7 linked regions of the Homo sapiens genome follow. The protein of the gene in region 1 purifies or fractionates together with the protein of each later gene. This does not show direct contact. Each region holds a gene or a part of one and is shown in the gene's direction. Other genes may lie near its edges. The genes, in order: MCM6, STK24, ATF1, NCAPH, DCTN5, SF3A1 and SMC1A.

Region 1 (3,500 bases):
TCCATTTCATTTTCTGGCTGGTTTCATTGCTGGTTGTTTTTTTGTTTTGTTTTGTTTTTGAGATGGAGTCTCACTCTGTCGCCCAGGCTGGAGTGCAGTGTCACAATCTCGGCTCACTGCAACCTCTGCCTCCCAGGTTCAAGCGATTCTTCTTTCTCAGCCTCCTGAGTAGCTGGGATTACAGGCATGTGCCACCATGCCCAGCTAATTTTTTATATTTTTAGTAGAGATGGGGTTTCTCCATGTTGGTCAGGCTGGTCTCAAACTCCCAATCTCAGGTGATCCGCCTGCCTCTGCCTTCCAAAGTGCTGGGATTATAGACATGAGCCACCGTGCCTGGCCTAGTTCTTATGGGATGTATATGTCTTTGGATTCATATGATATGTATATATGTTTATATTTCTACAAGTACATACCTAGGAGTGGAATTGTTGGGTCATAGGTTAATGCATGTTTTTCTGCCAAACAGTTGTGTCAATTTCTGTTTTCACCGCTGTGAATGAGAGTTGTTCTACCTTCTTGACAACACTTGATATTGTCAGTCATTTTAGCCATTCTGGTGAATTTATAGTGCTATTTCTGTGTGTGTAAGAGAGAGAATGAGAGAGGGTGTTTGTGAGAAAACCAAAGCAACACTGTGAGAGTGTGTGTGTTTGTGAGAAAACCAAAATACATACTACTGTGATTTCATTGGGAGAAAATCTGTTTGGTATATCAAAAAAAGTAGCTTAATTACTTCATCATTATTGGTTTAGGTCCAACCTAAACATGTGAAGGAAGCTTTCCGGTTACTGAATAAATCAATCATCCGTGTGGAAACACCTGATGTCAATCTAGATCAAGAGGAAGAGATCCAGATGGAGGTAGATGAGGGTGCTGGTGGCATCAATGGTGAGATACTTGTTCATGTGACTGTTTTGGAGTTAGGGACCAAAACATTTTCTGAGATGTCATGTGGTAGAAGTACACCTGCTGTTGGCTAATAGTCTATGGTAGCAAAACGGAAAAAGCAGATACTGAATTCTATTCACTGTTTACAAGTTAAAATGAAATTAAATAGTTGATATAAAATATATATACTTGGCTGGGCACGGTGGCTCTCGCCTATAATTCCAGCACTTTGGGAGGCTGAGATAGGTGGATCACAAGGTCAGGAGTTTGAGACCACCCTGGCCAATATGGTGAAACCCCTTCTCTACTAAAAATGCAAAAATTAGCCAGGCGTGGTGGCGGCTGCCTGTAGCCCCAGCTACCTGGGAGGCTGAGGCAGGAGAATCACTTGAACCCGGGAGGCGGAGGTTGCAGTGAGCTGAGATTGTGCCACTGCACTCCAGCCTGGGTGACAGAGCGAGACTCTGTCTCAAAAAATACATAGATATTTGAAAGACTAAAAGAAAAGGCAGCAAAATGGTGATAATAGACATAAATCCCCTGGGTTTTACCCTTATTTGTATTGTTGTTTTGCTTCTGAATTGAAAACATTTTTTCAAGCACATTAGAACAGAAAAATACTAGAAATTTTATTTATTTTGAGATGGGGTCTCATTCTGTCACCCAGGCTTGAATGCCTTGGTACACTCATGGCACTGCAGCCTTAACTTCCTGGGCTCAAGCAGTCCTTCTCCCTATCCTCTCTAATAGCTGGGACATATGCCCACGCCACCACTCCTGGCTAATTTTTTGAGAATTTTTTCTAGAGACAGGATCTCGCCATATTGCCCAGACTGGTAGAATTTTTTATTTTGTATATAATACTGCAAGTGGACTTTCAGATTGTGAAATCTTTATATCTCTGATCCCTCACGTTCCTCCCAAGTTAGTTTTTGTCTTTACTAGTAGAGTTTATACATTTGCTTCTAATTTATTTGAAAATTCTTATATGCTATGTATAACTGTATGCATGTTTTTTTTTGTTTGTTTTTTGTTTTTTTTTATTTTTGAGATGGAGTTTTGCTTTTGTTGCCCAGGCTGGAGTACAATGGTGCAATCTCATCTCACTGCAACCTTTGCCTCCCGGGTTCAAGCAATTCTCCTGCCTCAGGCTTCCGAGTAGCTGGGATTACAGGCACCCACCACCACACCCAGCTAATTTTTGTATTTTTAGTATAGACAGGATTTCACCATGTTGGCCAGGCTGGTCTCAAACTCCTGACCTCAGGTGATGTGCTTCCCTTGGCCTTGCAAAGTGCTGGGATTACAGGTGTGAGCCACTGCACCTAGCCGGTTTATTTTGTTTTTCATTTTTATTTTTTGGCAGAGGAGATCATGTGGGAATGTATGCTTGTTTTAAAATTAGTGTTAAGGCTGGATGTGGTGGCCCACACCTGTAATCCCAGCACTTGGGAGACCAAGACAGGAGGATCAGTTGAGTCCGGTAGTTCGAGACCAGCCTGGGCAGCATAGCAAGACCCTGTCTCTAAAACAAATAATAATAATAATTTTTAAAAGTGAAAAAAATCAGTATTAAATGTAAGTAGTGTATTTGTAAATGCTTGACAAGGGGATGTTAAGGGCACAAAAATAAGATTCAGGTGGTCAATTTTTCACTTAGGTCATGCTGACAGCCCTGCTCCTGTGAACGGGATCAATGGCTACAATGAAGACATAAATCAAGAGTCTGCTCCCAAAGCCTCCTTAAGGCTGGGCTTCTCTGAGTACTGCCGAATCTCTAACCTTATTGTGCTTCACCTCAGAAAGGTGGAAGAAGGTGAGGCTTACCTGGTACTGCTTACATGCTCGGTCACTTCTGTAAGCTCTGTTCACATAGGCCACTTGTGATTGCCAAACTTCGTGTTGTTCTGTCGGAAGAGAGGATAAGTTGTTAGATAAACTCACTTTAGCAAAGTAAATTTGTGGAGTATCAGCATACCTGCCAGCCTGAACATTTCTTCACAAGCTTATTGTCAGGCAAAGCTTTGTAGGTCCTTCTTTTTAACATTCTGGGCCTATTTTAATAATTTTGGGACCTGATAACATATGAAGCAGCACATACAAATGTTTTTACAAATGCAAAATTACTATTCCCTTACAATGGTTCTGTTTAAAACAGCTGGACCCCTAGGGTATATTTTAACAGTAATTAATTGAGCCTAGAAATCTATACTATCAAAAGGCCATTGCAGACTAGAAATGGAGTAAAATCCTCATGTAGTTATTGGTAAAGTGTGGCGTCTGGACACTAGTACGCTTCCTACCCTTAACTGCTTTACCATGCTATTCAAAGTTTTATCACCCTATAGTTAACTACAAAGCAGAAGGAAAAATGATGAATTCAAGATGTTGAACCTAAACTTCTACTTGATAGTTAAGCATCAGATAATTCTTGATTAAAAGCCCCAAGGATGGCTTGTGCTGGCTTTCTGGAATATTTTGTCATCACAGTATTTGCTCTGCTATGAAAGAAGAGAACAAGAGATTGTAGTTTCTGCCCTTGTTCCCCTGGGAACTTTAGACCAGTAGGAGAGAAGGCAACAAAGTGGCCACTAGGACGCCTCAGCTTT
Region 2 (3,500 bases), on another chromosome or scaffold:
ACCACCTCCCGATGGTCTCTTCTCTGTGAGGGAGGAGGCGGGGGGGTCTTTGGGAAATCCCAGAGGGACTGGACAAGGGTGTGATGGGTGGGGACTTGGGGCTGGTGGGTGTGGGTTTAGAGGTCCCCAGGCGGCCTCCCCCTGAACGTCCCAGCGCCCCCAGAGCAGGTGTGCGAGCACTGATGGGATTTCCTGCATTTCTGTGTTAAGGGAAACAGATGGCCAAGCCTCGGGGGGCAGTGATTCTGGGGACTGGATCTTCACAATCCGAGAAAAAGATCCCAAGAATCTCGAGAATGGAGCTCTTCAGCCATCGGACTTGGACAGAAATAAGGTACGTCTGCTCACTCCAGAATGGCCACGCTGACCTCAGTCTGCAGTGTTTTGGAGGCACTTGTGTGTGAAGCTTGCTGTGGGTGCGGCTGGGGTCCTTTGTGGCAGCTGTCCTGGAATTTTGTTGCTAGGGGATGGGCAGATGAAGAGCTTTAGTTCTGTCTGATGATCCAGGTGTTCACACCAGGGAGTCTGGCCTCTGGTCTGTTTTGTGCCACTCTATTCTGCTCTCTGCAGCCCTGCTGTTGAGTTAGGATGTCCCGATGTGGCAATGTCATGGGGTTTGGGGGTGACCCGTGAAATGACTTCATAGCTCTGAGGGACTGTTGTGCATGTTGCGGTTACTTACATACATATCATAATTTTGTGACTGAGTTTTAAGGACCTTATAAGTAAATGCATTGCTTTTGATATTTATGTAAAACAATTTTGATTAATTGGTTTTATGCCTGTTAAATTTATGAAAGGCCATATATTTAGGGTCTTGTAAAGCATAGTGGTGTAGTTTCTTTCAGGCAGGGTGGGCCAGTGGCTGTCCCCTGTTGATCCTACAAGTCCCGCTTTGATAAGTGAACAGGTGTTAAATGTCCAAATAGAGGTTGCAAAAGTAGAAACTCGGTCTCTGTCCTAGACAGCCATTGGAATGGCCAATCTTGACCTGATTTCTATTTCCAGGGTTTCATTAGTAAAGTACTTTTCTCTCTCTCTCTCTCTCTCTCTTTTTTTTTTTTGAGACGGGGTCTCTGTTGCCCAGGCTGGAGTGCAGTGGTGCCATCAGAGCTCACTGTAGCCTCAAACTCCTGGGCTCAAGTGATCCTCCCACCTCAGCCTCCTGAGTAACTGGGATTGCAGGCATGTGACATCACGCCCAGTTTATTTAAAACTTTTTTTTTTTTTAATAGAAACATGGTCTCACTATGTTGCCCAAGCTGGTCTCGAACTCTTGGGCTCAAGTGATCCTCCTGCTTCGGCTTCCCAAAGTGTTGGAATGACAGGCATGAGCCACCACGCCCAACCAGTAAAGCACTTCTGCGTAGATAGCAAGACGAGGCAGTTCACCGCCTGTGCCCACACAGAGTCCCCTTCCACATGGAACCCAGATGCTGGTTTCCCCGGTGCGTGGGTTTTGCATGTCACTGCAGATGAAACTTTGAAGTCTAGTGAGAGGCAGCCGATAGTCTCCTTCAGATGTTATGGTGCGCAGAGGGTGTTTCCTCAGCGTGAAGTGTAGAGGCAACTCCTGCGCTTCCATAGTCCAGGTGGGAGGTTTATTAAATTATTGCCAATGTGAACGTCAACTGTTTCTGATGACCTTTTTTTCCCTCTCCCCCAAGATGAAAGACATCCCGAAGAGGCCTTTCTCTCAGTGTTTATCTACAATTATTTCTCCTCTGTTTGCAGAGGTAGGTACCTGGCTGGCCTTTTCGGAGTGGGAGGGGAGGGGGAAGGAGAAGCTGGACACACTTCAGTGGTGATGTTGCCAGTTAAGAGTTGGGGACATTAAGACAAGCTGGCAAAGGCTCGGAAAGCCTGCATGGTGCCTTCCCAAAGGCTGTCAGCACCACCTTGCGCCTCCCCTGTCCTGGGTGATGCCCACTCCGCCGCAGCCTGGAATGTGTAGACTGGATGACAGTGACCCAGCCCGAGACCCTGTGTCACCCGTTGCCCTGCTTTTTAGCAAATCTCATTGTGTACAGCCTGCTCTCTTTGCCTCAGACCAATTTCTGGCCATGTGAAAAGTAGATTCTTTCTTCTAAGGAGACGTTGGATGCCCTGGAGTCCTCCGGTTTCCCCTGAGCCACATGTTTCACTGAAGTCCCTCCTCTGCTCAGCAGTGCTGTGCTCCCAGCTGGGCCTCCCCACGCCCACTCCCTGCTCAGCCTCTCCCTCCCAGAGGAAAGTGCTCCCGTGGCCGTGTTTTGAGAGATTTTCAAAAGTAGGCTTTATAAGAATGAAGATTGTTCTGCATCTGGTTAGTAGCGGATTTGAAAATAAGTTGGAAGTCCCCTCTTTTCTTGTTGTGCCCCTTCCTGGCTGAGGCTGCCTTTGAGGTACTCACTGTGGGCCACACACGCATCTGTTTGCGTGGGGATCTTCCCTCTTTGGGCAGTTTTCCACTGCGGCTGTGTTTAGGGGTCCTGGTCCTTGAAGGGGAGGTGCTCAGGAGAGGAAGTGTCATAGGAGCTCATTCTCCTCCCCTGTGCCTGCGTCACGCAGCGGGGGACCCCCGGCCATGGGCCGTGCCTGGCCAGCCACGGTCCTGCCAGTGCCTCTTCCCAGCCCTCCAATAAGCCTTCACCTGTTGCCCTGCCCAGCAGGTGCCCTGGAGGGTTTGTCTGAGGGCCTCTGACCTGGCAAGTTCAGGGCCCGGTGGGAGCAGGGCTGTGGCCAGAGCCCGAGGCCTCACCTGCAGCTTCAAGTGGGAAGTAGCCGAGCCCGCTGGTGTCGGGGAAGCCACAGGGCACGCGGAGGCCCTGCTGGATGATGTCTGGCTTCAGCCCTGGCTCATGGTTCTGGGCACCTGTGTTCTTCCTAACTAGGATGTCCGGGTTGAGCGCCATCCTGCGCTTCATTTTGTCCCATGGGAGTTGGCCCCGTGGGATTTCCAGGCTGTGCTCCTGCGGCCCTGCCATTGGCCGCTGGAATAGGGTCAGTCAGGCAGTTAGGGAAAGTGCATGGACTTTTTCATTCTCCTGAGGCTGTTTATTTTTTTACTGGGCCCATGAAGCAACTTTGACATAATTATTCAGGACATATCCTAAACGCCGTCATATCCTGGATTTTCCAGGTAACCAATTGCTAAACTCACAGGCATCTTTCCCAATGTATTTTTAAGAATGATATTTGCTACCCTAGAGTTCAGAGTGTTTATTGTGTATTATTTCATACAATACTTGTAGAAGCCCAGTAGAAGGATTATATCCCCATGCTTACAGATGAGGACATTGAGGAGACGGGTGTTGGCGTCCCTGCTTTCCTTCAGGGAGCACAGGTCAGGTTGCTCCCTGAAGTCAGTGATGGGTCCAGCACGTTCCACACGGCAAGGGGACAGGCCCTCTCCCAGGGCGGCCCTTCTGCCGCCTTTGCTCCTTCTTTGAGACTTAGGGGCGGGGCATGGGCAGGAGGGAGAGTGCTGGATTGTAGCTGACCCTCTCGGGACTTGTAAA
Region 3 (3,500 bases), on another chromosome or scaffold:
AAAATGGCATATATTTATACCTGCCATTGCCAGTGACCTCCACCTTGCTAAATCGAATGGTCTGTTCTCAGTCTTTATTTTATCTCAGCTTGTAAACAGCATTGGACATGGTTGATCATTCTTTTCTCCTCAGTATGCTGTCTTCACTAGTTTTCCATGGACAGCTCAATCATTTGGTTCTCTTCTTTACTGGTGACTCCTTAGTCTCATTTGCTGGTTCCTCCTCTTCATCCAGTCTCTTAGTGTTCCTGAGGTTAGTCCTCAGTCCTCTTCTATTTACCCCTATGAGCTCATCCAGTCTCATGGCTTTAAGGACTCTAAAAAGCTAGACCTCCAAAATTTATGTATCTAGCCCAGACCTCTTCCCAGACCTACAGGCTTGTATATTTAATATTCGTCTCAATGTCAGCAGTTGAATATATAACAGGTTTTTCAAACTTAGCATGTCAGGTAGATTAGTAATAAAACAACACTTTTAAGTAATGTGCATCAGTGTAGAAATAGGGTGGAGAATGACATCAGAGCCTGGTCTTTTTAACTCTGGTAAAATAGTACTGCTTCATTTGGGGGACAGACTTTATTCTCAGCTCTGGGCCTGCTATATTTGATATTCCTTTAATAGGTTGGGCTCCTGGAATAAACTTTCTCATTTTTCCTTTTCCTTTTGTTCCTTTCTTTTAGACTTTAGATTTAATGTACAAATGAATTGGAGTGGCAGGAGACAGATCATTTTTTTCTAAAAGTAAAAATTCAGTTGTTTCTTTTCCCACCTGCATTGTTCATCATGTTAATGCCAGTTCTTTTTTAGGTATCATCTTTATCAGAAAGTGAGGAGTCCCAGGACTCATCCGACAGCATAGGCTCCTCACAGAAAGCCCACGGGATCCTAGCACGGCGCCCATCTTACAGGTGAGTACTCTCTTGTATGAAGCCCTGCATGTTATGATAGTACCAAATGAGTTCAAGAGGTGCTGTGCAAAGTACACTAAAGAAGTTAGCACGCGTCAGTGTTAAGAATGAAATTGGTTGGCCCTCGCCTATAATCCCAACCCTTTCGGAGGCCGAGGTAGGATTGCTTGAGCCCAGGAGTTCAAGACCAGCCTGGGCAACATGGCAAGACCCTGTCTCTTCAAAAAATACAAACCTTAGCTGGACATAGTGGCGCACGCCTGTAGTCCCATCTACTTAGAGGCTAAGGCGGGAAGATGGCTTGAGCCCAGGAGTTTGAAGTTACAATGATCTGTGATTGTGTCACTGTGCTCCAGCCTGGGTGATAGAGCAAGATCCTGTCTCCAAGAAAAAATGAAATTGGACCTTTGGCCGGATGCAGTGGCTTATGCCTGTAATCCCAGCACTTTGGGAGGCTGAGGCGGGCAGATCACCTGAGGTTAGGAGTTTGAGACCAGCCTGGCCAACATGGTGAAACCCCGTCTCTAATAAAAATAGAAAAATTAGCCGGGTGTGGTAGTGCACACCTGTAATCCCAGCTACTTGGGAGGCTGAGGCAGGAGAATCACTTGAACCTGGGAGGCGGAGGTTGCAGTGAGCCGAGATTGTGCCACTGCACTGCAGCCTGGGCAACAGAGCAAGACTCTGTCTCAAAAAAAAAAAAAAATGTAAATTTAATCTTTATCTTACACCATTACACAAATCAACACCAAATGGATAAGAGACCTAAATGTTAAGACCTGAAACCATAAAAATCCTAGAAGAGAACATAGGCGATAAGCTCTTCGACATTGACCTTGGCAATGATTTTTTGGATATCACACCAAAAGCTTAGGCTACAAAAAAATAAATAAATGGGACTACGTCAAACTAAAAAACGTGTCTGTGTAGCAAAGGAAACAAAGCAACAAAATGAAAAGGCAACTTACGGACTGGGAAAAAATTATTTGCAAACCACTTATCTGATAAGGGGTTAATACCCGTAACTGAAGACAAAATGAGAGAACCTGAGGATACAGCTCTGAGTAGATTACCTAGAATGGAACACAGAAAGACAAAGTTAAGATAGAACACAGAATGAGAAGGTCCAGTACACAACATACATAGATAAAAGGAGAGAAGAGGGAAGGGCACTTCCAGCTTCTAGTCTCTCCAGGAGAGAAAATGATAATGACTGCAATTTCCAGGATATGAATTTCTCAGCATAAGAAAGCAAGGTCCCAAACAAGATAAATTAATAGAAACCTACATCTAGGTGTATGTTGTAAAGTAAAACTGGAGAACACCAAGGATAAACCTGAGATCTTAAAAGCTAAAAGCTTCCAAGTGAAAAGACCAATTACCTAGAAAGGAAGGACCAGTAAGCTGACAACAGATTTTTGAAGTACAGTATAAGACAATGAACTAAAATCCTTATTTTTATCTTTAAATTATTACATGTTTTTTTGAGACGGAGGTCTCACCCTGTTGCCTGGGCTGGAGTGCAGTGGTGTGATCACAGCTCACTGCAGCCTCAACCTCCTGGGGTCAGCTCCTCAGCCTCCTGAGTACCTGGGACTATAGGCATATGCCATGATGCCCACCTAATTTTTTTTAATTTTTGGTAGAGATAGAGTCCCACTATGTTGACCAGGCTGGTGTCAAACTCTTGGGCTCAAGTGATCCTCCCACCTCAGCCTCCCAAAGTGTTGCTATTACAGGCATGAGCCACTGTACTCAGGCTCCAATATTTAAATTCAAAGAGAAAGTAACTTTTGACCTGGAATTCTGTGCCTACTGAACAGTCTTTCAAAAATGACGGTGAAATAATAATCATTTTCAAACTGATTTAAGAAACTACTTAAGGAGGCTGGGTACAGTGGCTCACGCCTGTAATCCCAGCACTTTGGGAGGCCGAGGCGGGTGGATCACTTGAGGTCAGGAGTTCGAAACGAGCCTGGCCAACATGGAGAAACCCTATCTCTACTAAAAATAAAAAAATTAGGTAGGCATGGTGGCACATGCGTGTAGTCCCAGCTTGAACCCAGGGGGCGGAGGCTGCAGTGAGCTGAGATCGTGCCACTGCACTCCAGCCTGGGTGACAGAGTGAGACTCCATCTCTAAAAAAAAAGAAAAAAGAAACTACTTAAGTGTATACTTCAGGAAGAAGAAAATGAAAGGAATATAAATGTGAGAAAGTATGGTGAACAAAGACAATTCATTTCAGTTAGCATTGGCTTTTTAGAACAATAGTAATAATGATTAATTTGGGTAGTTTCATGGTTGTTGTTTTTTTTTTGAGATGGAGTCTCGCTCTGTCATCCAGGCTGGAGTGCAGTGGAGTAATCTCGGCTCACTGCAAGCTCCGCCTCCTGGGTTCATGCCATTCTCCTGCCTCAGTCTTCCGAGTAGCTGGGACTACAGGCGCCCGCCACCACACCTGGCTAATTTTTTGTATTTTTTAGTAGAGACGGGGTTTCACTGTGTTAGCCATGATGGTCTCAATCTCCTGACCTCGTGATCTGCCCACCTTGGCCTCCCAAAGTGCTGGGATTACAGGCGTGAGTCACCAT
Region 4 (3,500 bases), about 39 Mb from region 1:
TTGTTAGCTCCCATTCTTGTCATTTCTATTCTTGCCTCAATTTTGTTTAGTATAGTTTTTGTGCTAACGATCTATTTTCCAAGTTTGTGCTCTCATTTGGGGCTCTAATCCCCTGAAGTAAGTCTTCTCTAGTTTGGGACTAAAAATAAGTTAAAGTACCATTACATGATTGCCTATGTACTTGGTGTATTTTTAAGACGAAGCGTTTGATTTCCCAGCTATAGCATAGGTCACAGAATTCATTTCAGAATCGAATGTCTGTGCTTTAGGTTTCTCCTCTAGTATTTTACTAATTTGTGCGATGACAGTGCATAGCCTCACTCCAGCGTGGGTGTGGCCGACGCATCTGCTCGCTCCCAGAAGAGGCAGGGACACAGACTGGCAGCTAGCCAGCCACTGATGATACTTGAGCCTTTGCTGGAGGACAGTGAGGTAACTGTGCCTCTCATCTCTCGTCCCACTCAGTATCATTCTGAAGGGAGTAAGGAATGCACTTGACCCCCTTCTAATCTCTCTTTGTGATCTTGCTATCCTCTCCAGCGCCCTTGCAGCAGTGTGCAGAAGATCGCCAGATCTGCCCTTCCCTGGCCGGGTTCCAGTTTACACAGTGGGACAGTGAAACACATAATGAGGTGTGGTCAAGTTTTAGTGGCTCATGGTTTCAGTTAGTTGGCTCAAGAGTGGTCCTGCCCAATGGGAACCAAAACTGTGGCATCATCTTTATTTAGCCAGGAGTACAGAAAATATTTCCTTTGGCACTTCTGTAGGGACAAAAACCCTGAGGGAGGAGGGTAGGGTTGTGAACCCCAGCAGGACTATTCTAGAGGTAAGTGAGTTCCAGGATCAGCTTTATGTCCTCTCTTCTGCTATCCTAGGGTAAGGCGGCCCTGGCATTAATCAGTGAACATTTATAATTAGATTTACTCTTGAATGTGGTTATCCCAGTGGCCTCGAATCTCTTAGGCTGCCGTCAAGCTTGAGGAATTTCCTGCTCTTTGGGGTTGAATCCCTTGGCACAGAGTTTCCTGAGAAATTGTCATGTGTAGAGCTTTCCTCTGTGTATTTTTAGCATGGCCCCCTTTAGCCTACTTACTACAATTTCCAAAATAAATGATCTCCATGGAAAACTGTTTTCTGCAAACATGTAGTTAATGGGTACAGAATCCTGTTTCATGTTTTACAAAATGTGCCTGACAACAATGCAGCTTCCTCCTGTGCTGCACAATATAAACTTCCCCCTCACTGTACTATCGTGAGAGTCTTGGCCCAGGCAGGCAGGGGATGGGAAAGGGAAGGGTGGCTCAGGGGAAGGAGGAGGCTGGAAACTGAAATTTAAGGGTGAGAAGGCTGTCCCTCCAGTGGTGATTTGGGGTGGTTATAGGAATGAGAATTACAGAACCCTCTTTTGTCCCTCCAGTCTGTGTCGGCCCTGGTAGACAAGTTTAAGAAGAATGACCAGGTATTTGACATCAATGCTGAAGTTGACGAGAGTGACTGTGGAGACTTCCCCGATGGGTCCCTGGGGGATGACTTTGATGCCAACGATGAACCTGACCACACCGCAGTTGGGGATCATGAAGAGTTCAGGAGCTGGAAGGAGCCCTGCCAGGTTCAGAGCTGCCAGTAAGGCTCTCAGAGTCCGAAAGTGTTTCTATAGGAGTTTTCCATTGGTTCTTTTTTCTTTTTCTTTTTTTTCTAATTAAAAAATTTTTCTTTCTTTTTTTTTCCCCCCCCAAAAATAGAGACGGGCATCTCACTGCATTGCCCAGGCTGGTCTTGAACTCTTGGGGCTCAAGCAATCCTCCTGCTTTGGCCTCCCAAGGTGCCAGGATTTCAGGTGTGAGCCACCATGCCTGGGCACTATCAGTTCTTAACAGATTTCCTGCTGGGGTGATTGAATTTGATGTCTGATTGGCTGGGCTGGTGTGCTGTGTCATACACATCAGCTGAGCTTTTCAGCTGAGCCTTTCTGACTCAGAGGAATCACACCTGGCTTTGAATGTCGGCTTAGCCACTTTGGTTATAAAACTGACATTGCAAGAGTTTGTAAGGATTAGAACAATGTAAAGCGTTTGGAACAAAGCACCTGGGATCTAGTAATTACGTCAATGTGGCTGTTGTTACCACGTGCATTTTGGTAGCAGAGAGCATGCTCCCTTTGTACACATTGCTTATAGTGTGGCTGTTGGTGACTCTAAGCCACCAATTTACCACCTGAAAGGTAAGCAAGTGGGGGTTAGGCAGTGTTGGGTTACCAGATGGGCAGACTGGGGACGAGCAAGGCAGGGAAAACAAAACCAACCAATAAATTGAGAATATTTGGAGGAGAAGAAGAAGAATTGGTTTAGTAATTAAATTTTTGATTACCCTAGTAAACATCATAAAAATAATCAGAACTTGGTTGGCCTTTATGTACTTAATAGGTTAGTATTGTTTTAATTCTAAATATGATTTGGAAGCAGGGTCTCACAACACTTTAATGTCATGGTCCTGTAAAGGTCTTCAATGGGCCTGGGGGTAGGAGATTTCATGAGATTAGAGTGAACAGTCCCTCTGTTAACTCCTATGTCTGTAACAGAGCTTTGCAGAACTGGGATTGGGGACAGCCAAGCTGGTTTTGAGTAAAACCTTAGAAGTTGCTTAGTATAATTTCCCGCTATGACAAAAATCTCTTCAAGACCCTGCTCGGATGTCTTTCCTAAGCTCATTTTGTCTGCCCTTGTGGGAAACGATTAGGCTGATAATGTCTTTTAAAGACATTATCAAGGCGCCACTGCCCATCCAGGCTCAGTAGCACCCTGCTCTCCGGAATTGTACTGTTCACATGGCTGCAATTTTGCCCCATTCTCATCGTGTCTTTTTTGTTTTTATGTTTTTTTGTTTTTTTTTTTTTTGAGACAGAGTCTCGGTCTGTCGCCCAGGCTGGAGTGCAGCAGCGCGATCTCTGCTCACTGCAAGCTCTGCCTCCCGGGTTCACACCATTCTCCTGCCTTAGCCTCCCGAGTAGCTGGGACTACAGGCGCCCGCCACCATGCCTGACTAATTTTTTTATTAGAGACGGGGTTTCACCATGTTAGCCAGGATGGTCTCGATCTCCTGACCTCATGATCCTCCCACCTCGGCCTCCCAAAGTGCTGGGATTACAGGCGTGAGCCACTGCGCCTGGCCATCCTGTCTTCTAAGAAGGGAGAAATGATAGGTTGATGGGATGAACTCTTAAAAACATCATTTTCAAATGTCAGAGAAAAGCTATCACTTTCCTTAAACAGTGAGGTGACATCTGAGGGACTGACAATAACAAAGGGCTTCCATGACTTTTATTTGGTTTCTGGAAGATGTTTTCTGCTGGTTATTTTGAACAAATGTCTCCACTTCTCTCCCCTATTCCAAACAGCACAAAATCTTAGACTCTATCCTACCTAGTACATTAGGCGTGGGAGGCTGCAGTTCTAGTCTCAGATTTTACCCATCCTTAAATCCCCTCCCCTTGCCACATCGCT
Region 5 (3,500 bases), on another chromosome or scaffold:
AGCACTTTGCGAGGCCAAGGCAGGAGGATCCCTTGAGCCCAGGAGTTCAAGACCAGCCTGGGCAACAAAGCAAGACCCTTTCTCTTAAAAAAAAAAAAAACCCAAAAGTTAAGGGATTTGATAGGGCTAGAAAGCAGTAGACCTGGGATTTAAACCCAGGCAATATGATTATTAGCCATGCTGCTATATGGCCTACTTATTGCCTTACTTCACGGAGCTTACAGTCTAATGGGAGTAAGGAAATCTGAAGGGTGAGTTGAAACTGGGGGAAGACAGGCATTTCAGGAAAGAGATTCACATGCGTAAGGAAGGGTTCAAGTCATCAAAGGGCATTTACATGTAATTCAGGGTGCAAGCGGGCCCCTTGCTCAGCAGAATCTGTAGGACCCTGGTCCATTGGAGCCTAGGAATAGGTTGATTTAACCCAACCAAGGCTTAACAAGGTTGGATTTCCTGTGATTTCTTAGATGATGAGCTTGATTTCAGTTGGGATTTATGAGAACCATGTTTAGGGAAAGTGTTTTCTGCATTTTAGATTTGTACTCCAGACTAGATTCTAGGAAAAGCCAAGACTCTGTTTCTTTAATGACCATTCCCGTTAATATGGAGCCAGCTCTCTGCCCTGGATAAGACTCAGACCCTGAAATATCAAAAAACTTGCAGAAACCAAACAGTTCACATTCCAGGAGCTATGAGGGTACAGCAAAGGTGGACAGAAAGTCTTTGGGACAAGGGGAAAGTTAGTAAAGTTCATCTCTCCCCTCACCCTAATTGCTTGACAAAAGCTAGCCTTCCAGCTGGGGGTTTCTGATATTTTCCTTAGCAAAGTGAAGATATCACCCCAGTAGCCTAGTCATATAACCCTGTCGTTTATCCTCAGAGCGAAATGTCTGAAAGGTTGAATCCAAATTCTATTCCCAGTGCTTAGGAAATTCTAATCCTATTGTCAGGTGCTCTTGTTTTTATGCCACTTTTTAATACATCACTTCATGATATAGTCATTGTTCCATATTGGCGGTACTCGCTGAGCCTTGACAAATACTCGATCTCAGGAGAGATTCTTTTAGAATTCTAGAATCTCAGCACTGGAAGTAACTCTTTTAGTCCAGCCGTCCCCATGACACATAGCTCCTTCCTATAACATCCCATGTGATAGTCTTAATTTCCGTTTGGATATGTGAAGATGTAGGTGTTCATCAGAATTGCTCAGATGCCTGAAGGAAAAGCTTAACAAGCAATATTTATAGGCACTGTTACTGTACTATGAGTTTTACATTTATTCTCTCTATTCTTGACAACCTCCCTGCAGATTTGGTTTTCCATCCTGTTTCATAGATGAGGAAACCAAGGCTCCAAGATGCTAACTTACTTGCACAGGATATATAGGTAGCTGTAGTATTAGCAGCACGGCTGCAGTTGTTAACTCCTTGGAAAGCTCTCTAGGGAAGAATAAAGAAGTAGTTTCAGGCCAGGCGCAGTGGCTCATGCCTGTAATCCCAGCACTTTGGGAGGCCGAGGCAGGAGGATCACTTGAGGCCAGGAGTTTAAGACCAGCCTGGCCAACATGGTGAAACCCCGTCTCTACTAAAAATACAAAAAAATTAACTGGGCATGGTAGCACATGCCTGTAATCCCAGCTACTTGGGAGGCTGAAACAGGAGAATCGCTTGAACCCAGGAGGTGGAGGTTGCAGTGAGCCGAGATCGCGCCACTGCACTCCAGCCTGGGCAACAGAGTGAGACTCTGTCCCCCGCCACCAAAAAAAAAAGAAGTTTCAGCTTTTACCTCCTCAGCTATTACCAGTACATTCATGCCTAAGAAATACCTACATTTTAAATGTTTAATTTGATTGATCAGTCTACCCAGACAGCTTCTGAAACCCAGTTAAGTATTATTTCTCTAAGTGGGCAAAATGGCCAACCAGTGGACAGAGCAGGTGCCTTCAGGCTGCATGGTGGCTGGTATACACAGTGAAAATATCCCATCAGCTAGTCTTCTTTTCCAGGGCCCTTTGTCTGTGGATCCCTCCATGGGACTATATCATGCCTTATGTAGCACATTGGGTGTCCTTTTACTCAGTGCCTCATGAACTTAGTCTGAGTTAGTAGGAGCTTAGTCATGACAGGAATTCTTAGGGTTTATGTTAATTTGAGGTCACCAGGGAAGATAGTTGCCCTATTTTTGAAATTGCCACTAGCAGGTAACCCACGGAAGATAACTTTACAAGGAAGAACGAAGAACTATAGTCATAATGTGCTTTTGAGCTAAAGATGTTGCTGAGTATTCTCATAGCTGTTATCCACCTAGCTGGAGAGAGATCAGCCACTTGGGAAATTCAGAGCCACTTAGGAAATTCACATGCTTTCATAAGAAGTTCATTTAGCAATCTACCTTTTCCTAGAAAAACATATGATTTAAGTGTTTAATAATGGGGAAAAATTTAAACACAAGCAAATCAATCATGTTCTTTGCTAAAATCTGAGGTCTGGACTGGTTAGCATTGTCCTGGTATTTGTAAAGATTTCCACATTCTCAGTCAGGTATATTTTCTGATTGTCTAGCCAGGATACCAGTGAACTAACAGGCCCTGATGTAAATGCAGTCAGAATGATCAAAACTTTCATTTCCTCAGCAAGGAGTCTAAGATACAGCTGTAAACTGTACACAGAAGCCCCATGAAACAGATGAGTCTCTCAGACCTTATTTCTTGCTCTCTGAATGCCGTGGATCATGGCAGAATTGAAAAGTGGTGACAGTGGTTAAAGTCAGGGATGAGGTTCAAACATCTACATGACTATCACTCACCAGTGGGAGAACAAATGAACTAATAGCTTCATATCCAAATGAATTTTTCAGGGTTTTTCCAGTTTGAATTGACAAAAGAGCAAACCAACCAACCAACCTTAAGCTGGTGGATGTGGAGTGGAATGGGTGGTGAATATAAACCAAGAGTACAGGAGTAGATCTTAATGTCACGGCCAAATGGCTCCAGGCATTCAGCCCATGTTGTAAGAATTAGTCTCCATCTCTGTGCTGCTTTCCTCTGGGAGGTTCACTCCCAGGCAGGTTCTTCCTTCATGGAAATAAGATGCCTATTCCAGTCTTCCAGCCTATCCTCTGGAAACCCCAGTGGGAAGTGCTGCTTTCCCCAGTAGTCCCAGCAAAAGCCCTGAGGTTGGGGTCCATCAGACTAATTGGGGTCATATGCTGACCTGTTATTGTTTCCAGGCTTGGGGTTTGGTGTGTGGGCTGGGGGGTGAAGCACATGGATGAGATGGGGATGGGAGGGTTACCGAGGAAAATACAGGTTCTGTTACCAGAAGAAAGGGGAATGGATGCTGGACAAGCAAAAGCACAAATGTCCACTAAATCAAAGGGAAAATTCAACAGAGCTCATGGAAGACTGAAATTCAGTCTGTAATGTCTGAGACAGTTTGTCCTGCCTCTAGCATACAGCCTTCCCCCCGAAATGTACACAAACACACACTCTCACAACCTTG
Region 6 (3,500 bases), on another chromosome or scaffold:
GGAACATGGTTTCTCAGAATGTAGTCGGAGTCCCTGCATCTGAATCACCTGGGCATTTGGTAATGTAGCAGGACGAGTCGCAGACAAAACTCCTCAGACACCGGATTAAAGAAGGAAGAGGTTTTTTATTCATCCGGGAGCGTCGGCAGACTCGTGTCTTAAGAGCCGAGCTCCCCGAAAAAGAAATTCCTAGCCCTTTAAAGGGCTTACAACTCTAAAGGTCTATGTGAAAGAGTCATAATAGATCAAGTAAGCGTGAGGAACGTGACTGGGGGCTACATACATCAGCTAACAGAACAAAAAGTTTTACAGTGCTTTCTCATACAATGTCTGGAATTTACAGATAACACCAGTAGTTTTGGTCAGGGGTTAATATTATTATTATTTTAACCACCAGGGCCAGGTGGTGGCACCAAGGTCGTCTAGCTATTTATCTTACTTCTGTTTCTTTCCAACTTTTTGCTTTCTCCCTTTTCTCCTGTCTTATAAACTAGGGAAAAGGGGAGGTTGGGGAGAAACTGGGAAGGACAACAGGAGAAGTGCTGGTCTCATACCATAGTAAAAATGCAGATTCCTGGTCTCACTGAGATAGTCCAGTGAGAGAGGAGCCAGGGAAGCTGCTCTTCTCCCTGGGTCCCCAGGAGCAGCCCCTGCAGGTGCAGTGAACTTAAGAGAACTGCTTTTCTGAAGTAGAGGGTTCTAACCTGAGGGAAGTCTGTGAATGAAAGTCTACTCTGAATGATATCCTAGAGGAGTTTTACAGTGGAGAACCTGCTCTGAACCAGGGACTTTAAAACCTTATTTCTTTTCCTGTTTGCACAGCCCACAGAAGAAGAAGCATCTTCAAAGGAGGATTCTGCACCTTCTAAGCCAGTTGTGGGGATTATTTACCCTCCTCCAGAGGTCAGAAATATTGTTGACAAGACTGCCAGCTTTGTGGCCAGGTAACAGAGCTACTTGGGTGGGTCAGAGGTGGGTTTCAGCATGAAGAGACTTCAGCACTGAATCAGCACAAGGGTTTTTAAAGAGACGTTGTTGGCTTGGGCCTTTTAGTTCATAAAAAACCACAACATGGCACTGGGGTAGGCAATAGGTAGGACTGGTGTCCCTGACACAGCATAGCAGTGGCCAAAGTGAGAATCACACTTAGCCCCACAGTCACCAGGAGCCTCTGCTTCTAAAACTGGCCTGAGGAAATGCCTGGAAAGCTGCTTCATCACAGATGGTGTGTGTCTGTGCCTGAGCTGCTGGCCTGAGGAAGATAAAAAGGGGAGTTTATTATTCTCATTGTACAAAGACCACATTCCAAGAGCCTCAAATGACCCATCTGCAAAATGGAAAAAATGCCATCTCAGAGTTGTTGTGAGGCGGGAGTGAGGTCATGGGGCTGCATGCAGTTCAGTTCCACGCGGGTGCTAGTCACCTCCTCAGATGGCATGGGCATTGCTCCGAGTTCCTCCTGTCTCTCCTCACAGTTCCATGCAGGTGCTAGCCGCCACCTCAGATAGAATGGGCATTGTTCCGAGTTCCTCCTGTCTCTCCCCACAGTTCTGTGCAGGTGCTAGCTGGCTTCTCAGATGGAATGGGCATTGGTCAGAGATCCTCTCTCTCCCCACAGTTCCATGCAGGTGCTAGCCGTCTCCTCAGATGGAATGGGTATTGCTCTGAGTTCCTCCTGTCTCTCCCCACAGTCCTGTGCAGGTGCTAGCTGGCTTCTCAGATGGAATGGGCATTGGTCAGAGATCCTCTCTCTTCCTACAGTTCCATGCAGGTGCTAGCCGCCACCTCAGATGGAATGGGAATTGCTCCGGGTTCCTCCTGTCTCTCCCCACAGTTCCACGCAGGTGCTAGCCGCCACCTCAGATGGAATGGGAATTGCTCCGAGTTCCCCCTGTCTCTCCCCACTGTACTTACCCTCACATCCTTAGATGGAATTTTTTTACTGGCCCCTTGACTCCAAAGGTCAGTACATTCTCTAGGGTATTTAAGGTATTCCTTTGGCAGCCCTCAGTCCATGTCCAGCCTACAGATGTTTTGTTTGTCCTCACAGTAATTTTTTCGAAACTCAAATTTGTTGCTACTATTTAAAAATGAGGAGGTCAGGTGCTGTGGCTCTTGCTTGTAATCCTAGCACTTTGGGAGCCCAAGGTGGGAAGATCACTTGAACTCAGGAATTTGAGACTAGCCTGGGCAACATAGTGAGACCCTGTCTACAAAAAATAAAAAGTTATCTGGCTGTGGTGGCATGGGCCTGTGATCCCAGCTACTTAGGAGGCTGAGGCAAGAGGATCGGTTGGGCCCAGAAGGTTGAAGCTATAGTGAGCCATGGACTCTAGCCTGGGTGACAGTGAGACCCTGTCTCAAAAAAAACAAAACAAGTAAAAATGAGATTTCACAATCAGTCTGGATTTCTGGACAGTTCCTTCATGTGTGGAAGCAGGCCCAATCAGCATGTGTTCTCCAGGGACCACGTCACCCCCCTGAGGCAGTGTCTCAGTCAGTATGCATCATTTAACGGATGGTCCTTCCTTTCCCAACCTAATAAAATTAGACATAAAGATTACTTTGGTTAGACTTTCTTTTTTTTTTTTTTAAATGACATGGAGTCTCACTCTGTTGCCAGGCTGGAGTGCAGTGGTGCAGTCTCAACTCACTGCAACCTCTGCCTCCTGGGTTCAAGTGATTCTCCTGCCTCAGCCTCCCGAGTAGCTGGGACAACAGGCGTGCGCCACCACGCCCAGGTAATTTTTGTATTTTTAGTAGAGACGTGGTTTCACCGTGTTGGCCAGGCTGGTCTCAGTCTCTTGACTTAATGATCCCCCGACCTGGGCCTCCCAAAGTGCTGGGATTACAGGCGTGAGCCACGGCACCAGCCTACTTTGGTTAGACTTTCACTATGTCAGCTCTGCAGATTCATCTCATTACATTTCAAGGGCTTTGATTACCTTTGAGTATTAGGTTGAAAGCTTCTCTGTGCTTGATTGAACATTGTGATGATGTTGATTGGGTCATGTCAGATTTAGACAGTGTTGTGTTTAAGATAAATGTTTAATGGCTCTTAGCAGTGTTCATGCCTCCCCTTTTCCCCTGATACTTTAAAAACAGAATATACAGAAAAGGGGAGTTGGGTGAAGAATCACCATATTCTCATTACCAGAGTAGTGTCTACCAGCTGTTTTCACATTTTTCTGTTTCCTTCTGTCCTTGGAATCCTTTTTTTAGATCCTTGTAATACTAGTAAAGATATTCCACTCTGTGTTGTAAGCATTTTTCCATTTTGCTCCATGGTCTTCATAATGCCCTGTGGTCCTTTATTAAGGGGATGCACCATGTAGAGGTGAAAGGCTTTCCTTGACTTGGCCACCATTTCTGTATTTTCCTTAGAGGAGGAGGTTTCCAACATTTCTTTTTTAGAGACAGAGTCTCGTTCTGACACGCAGGCAGGAGTGCAGTGGCATGATAACAGCTCACTGCAGCCTTGAACTCCTGGGCTCAAGTTA
Region 7 (3,500 bases), on another chromosome or scaffold:
GGATATAGAATTGAATCAGACTGTATTTCTTTCCTCAGGAAACATATAGAGTACTGGGGGAAACATCAATTTGAGGACAGTGTGATCAATGGTGTAATTAAGGTAGATACAAAATACTGAAGAAATTTTCAAGGAACTGCAAATCAACAACAGGAAAAATAAAAAACAATGACAAGAAACCCAATGGAAATGTGGCTAAGTACTTATGATACCCAATGCAATGAAAAAAGTAAAAAAAAAAAAAGTGGCAAATAATATAGATAGGCTTTCATGGAAAGAGAAGTTCAAGTGGCTAATGACCATAGGAATTGAGGTCTAACCTCTTAATCAGAGAAATGCAAATTTAAAAGTCTGACAGTATTAGGTGGAAATCTATAGATGTCCTGTGTAGTATGTGAAAAAAATATATGTGTATATATATAATGTATATATATACACATATATAAAACCTATGGGTATATATCCCTGAGAGAGTCTTGCCATAGGGTCCCAAAGAGATACACATTCAGTGTCATTCATCTTGGCATAACTTGTAGTAGTGGGACATTGGTGGCAATGTAGATGGCCATTACTGGGGGAGCATAAGTCAAATGAATATATAGACTGGAATACTGTGTGGGAGTTCACAGCAAGAACTAGATTTGTGGGCAGTAATGGATAACTTATAAACCTGGTATTGACCAGAAAAAAGAATAAAATTTATAACACAGTAGATTTGTGTAAATTTTAGAACTAAGACATTTTACAAGGATATGCATTTTTAAGGAATGCATGTGTGTATGTCACTTTGTGGTGCATGTTCACAGTAGGGAAGGTAATGGGAATGGAAATTGGGGATTGAAACAAAGAGGACAAGGGAAGGGTCTTGCCCAGGCAGTGGTGATAAGTGTGTTATGAACTGTGGGATATGATTAACTTGCTTCTGCACCTAAAGTCTAAAAAGGGAGGAACCCAACAAAGTGTAATAGAAACTAGGAACCTGCTCAGAACCGTCAGGAAAGGTTTTACAAAACAGGGAGTGATGACTGGAGACCTGAAGAGTGAGTAGGATTTAGCCAGCCAGGCAGCGACAGAAAAAGTGAATTCCAAGCAGAGAGAACAGCATGCTTGGAAGTGTGAGAGAGCATGCCTTGTTCTGGATACTAAGTAGTTTTTAATGTCTGGAGCATAAAAGCAGGGTCAGGAAGAAGGTGGGGAGTGGTGGAGAGGTCAGCAGGGGCCGGATCACAGAGGCCTTTGTGAGTCATACTTAGGAGATTGGATATAAAATTGCATAGCTCAAAATTATAGAGTTAGTTATATTTCATTTGGATTATAGTGGCTAATAGGTTTAAGCTGCTAGCATGACATCTGGCAACATCTGTCACACCATATTGGGAGTTGGAGAGGGCAATTGGAAGTTAGTCCTGCCTGGCCTGCCAGTGCCTGTGTATGCTGGTTGCATACTCTTGAGTTTCTGAAGAGATGGAGAGGAGGACAATAGCAGGAATCCAGTATTTTCTCCATGTTTTTGTACTATCCAAGTTCTGCCCTTTAAGAGGTTCTGGGACCTTGGGGCAGAAGTTGGGATGCTGTAGTTGAAGCCCTTGGACAAAAGTAAGCTGAGTACAGTCAATATACCTGGTGATAATGGTAACTAAAATTGATTGAGTAGTTATCGTGGACTCGGTGTGGTTCTAAGGACTTTATACATATTAACTCATTTAAAAATCTCCCAATAACCCTGAGGTAGGTACTATTATTATGTTCATTTTGCAGATGGGGAAACAGGTCTGGAGAGTATAACCAACTTGCCTGAATGACATTACTAGTAAGTGGCAGAGTTGAGATGCCAGTCTTCTTAATCCACTACATTATGTTGCAGTGGTGGTATACTAGAAAGAGCCCGGGTTTTGGTGTTAAATCTGGGTTTCAGTCTCACATGTGCCATTTACTAGCTGTGTGGCCTTGGGCAAGGTCTTTTACCTCTTGGCCTAAGTTTTCCTCATTTGTAAAATTAGGATAATAATGCCTACTTGCAGAGCTGTTGATTAGAGGATTAGAGATAATGTATGTAAAGTACATAGAAGCCTAATAGGAATTACCATAGCTGGTAGAATCAGATGGACTCTTTTATGCCTCCTTGTAGGAACTTGGAGGGCGCTGGGGTCTTCATTGTTTAAAGGGGGATAAATAAGGTTTGGCCGAATCTTCCCTGCCTTATGCCATGTCCACAGGGCTAGGCTGAGGAACTTAGTTCTTCAGCTTCAGGGGACCGTTTTATGTGCATATGGATGGATGAAGCAAGTTGTGACTGAAAATCAGTAACTCTGGGTCCCTGAGCCCTGGGTCTAGTTTCCCTTTCTTCCCATAGTTGGATTTTGTACATTGGTTATCTCTGGCTGATGAGATTATGAGTGATTCTCCCCCCACCTTTATACACAGTTTGGAGTTTGAGAATCAGAAGACTCGCTTGGGCATTCAGTTGGATTTTGAAAAGAACCAACTGAAGGAGGACCAAGATAAAGTACACATGTGGGAGCAGACAGTGAAAAAAGATGAAAATGAGATAGAAAAGCTCAAAAAGGTAAGGAAGGAAAGAATTAAAAGACAGACTAATAACTGGGAGGAAAAATGGGAAGAAATACGACAGACAGAAGGATAATGTCCACAACTTAGAAATTTCTCATCTAAATCAATAAGAAAAATACCAAGACCTAAACGGGAAAAATGGATAAATGTCACAAACAGTTCAAGAAGACTTTCAAATAGTCCCTAAACACATACAAATAATTTAGTCTTACTAAAGAAATGCAAATTAAAGCAACAATTAGATACAATGTATTTTGTAACACATCGTGGAAAATGTAAAAACAGAAGACACAATGCTCAATACCAGCCATGGTATAGGAGACCAGTATTCTTTTTTTCTTTTTTTGAGATGGAGTCTTGCTCTGTTGCCCAGGCTGGAGTGCAGTGGCACTATCTTAGCTCACTGCAACCTCCGCCTCCCGGGTTCATGCCATTCTCCTGCCTCAGCCTCCCAAGCAGCTGGGACTACAGGTGCCTGCCACCACGCCCAGCTAATTTTTGTATTTTTAGTAGAGACGGGGTTTCACCATATTGGCCAGGCTGGTCTCGAACTCCTGACCTCATGATCCACCTGCCTCGGCCTCCCAAAGTGCTGGGATTACAAGCATGAGCCACCGTGCCTGGCCAGGAGACGAGTATTCTTATGTAATGTGGCACCATCCTTCAAGAAGCTTCACAATGCATTTATACTCTGTAACTCAGTAGTACCTGAGGAGATCATCCAAAATGCTGGCAAAGCTTTATGCAAACACTTTGATGTTTATAACAAGCATTATTTATAGTTCCAAATTGGAAACTACTCAGTGCCCCTTGGAAAGTGGGAATTTAGCAAATCATGCTACGTTTGTAACATTATTTATGTAGTGTCTTCAAACTTTAGTAATACACAGACCCTTTTTAAAGGAAAAATAGTCCCTAAGATTGCCAGT

Evidence for each region.
Region 2: the proteins of MCM6 (region 1) and STK24 fractionate together in Homo sapiens (co-fractionation; one large-scale study listed by BioGRID). This does not show direct contact.
Region 3: the proteins of MCM6 (region 1) and ATF1 purify together in Homo sapiens (co-immunoprecipitation; one large-scale study listed by IntAct). This does not show direct contact.
Region 4: the proteins of MCM6 (region 1) and NCAPH fractionate together in Homo sapiens (co-fractionation; one large-scale study listed by BioGRID). This does not show direct contact.
Region 5: the proteins of MCM6 (region 1) and DCTN5 fractionate together in Homo sapiens (co-fractionation; one large-scale study listed by BioGRID). This does not show direct contact.
Region 6: the proteins of MCM6 (region 1) and SF3A1 purify together in Homo sapiens (affinity purification with mass spectrometry; 2 studies listed by BioGRID, with this or other methods). This does not show direct contact.
Region 7: the proteins of MCM6 (region 1) and SMC1A purify together in Homo sapiens (affinity purification with western blotting; 2 studies listed by BioGRID and IntAct, with this or other methods). This does not show direct contact.

The regions. Positions count from the first base shown.
Region 1 is NC_000002.12:135,845,444-135,848,943, reverse strand, and holds part of MCM6 (DNA replication licensing factor MCM6), read left to right. Parts: intron 1-755; coding exon 756-891; intron 892-2,551; coding exon 2,552-2,707; intron 2,708-3,500. UniProt on the Homo sapiens protein: Acts as a component of the MCM2-7 complex (MCM complex) which is the replicative helicase essential for 'once per cell cycle' DNA replication initiation and elongation in eukaryotic cells.
Region 2 is NC_000013.11:98,458,608-98,462,107, reverse strand, and holds part of STK24 (serine/threonine-protein kinase 24 isoform b precursor), read left to right. Parts: intron 1-210; coding exon 211-334; intron 335-1,667; coding exon 1,668-1,736; intron 1,737-3,500. UniProt on the Homo sapiens protein: Serine/threonine-protein kinase that acts on both serine and threonine residues and promotes apoptosis in response to stress stimuli and caspase activation.
Region 3 is NC_000012.12:50,795,101-50,798,600, forward strand, and holds part of ATF1 (cyclic AMP-dependent transcription factor ATF-1), read left to right. Parts: intron 1-797; exon of another isoform or gene 798-808; coding exon 809-909; intron 910-3,500.
Region 4 is NC_000002.12:96,352,766-96,356,265, forward strand, and holds part of NCAPH (condensin complex subunit 2), read left to right. Parts: intron 1-540; coding exon 541-632; intron 633-1,417; coding exon 1,418-1,623; intron 1,624-3,500. UniProt on the Homo sapiens protein: Regulatory subunit of the condensin complex, a complex required for conversion of interphase chromatin into mitotic-like condense chromosomes.
Region 5 is NC_000016.10:23,661,966-23,665,465, forward strand, and holds part of DCTN5 (dynactin subunit 5), read left to right. Parts: intron 1-3,500. UniProt on the Homo sapiens protein: Part of the dynactin complex that activates the molecular motor dynein for ultra-processive transport along microtubules.
Region 6 is NC_000022.11:30,350,395-30,353,894, reverse strand, and holds part of SF3A1 (splicing factor 3A subunit 1), read left to right. Parts: intron 1-822; coding exon 823-944; intron 945-3,500. UniProt on the Homo sapiens protein: Component of the 17S U2 SnRNP complex of the spliceosome, a large ribonucleoprotein complex that removes introns from transcribed pre-mRNAs.
Region 7 is NC_000023.11:53,398,655-53,402,154, reverse strand, and holds part of SMC1A (structural maintenance of chromosomes protein 1A), read left to right. Parts: intron 1-2,424; coding exon 2,425-2,566; intron 2,567-3,500. UniProt on the Homo sapiens protein: Involved in chromosome cohesion during cell cycle and in DNA repair. Central component of cohesin complex. The cohesin complex is required for the cohesion of sister chromatids after DNA replication.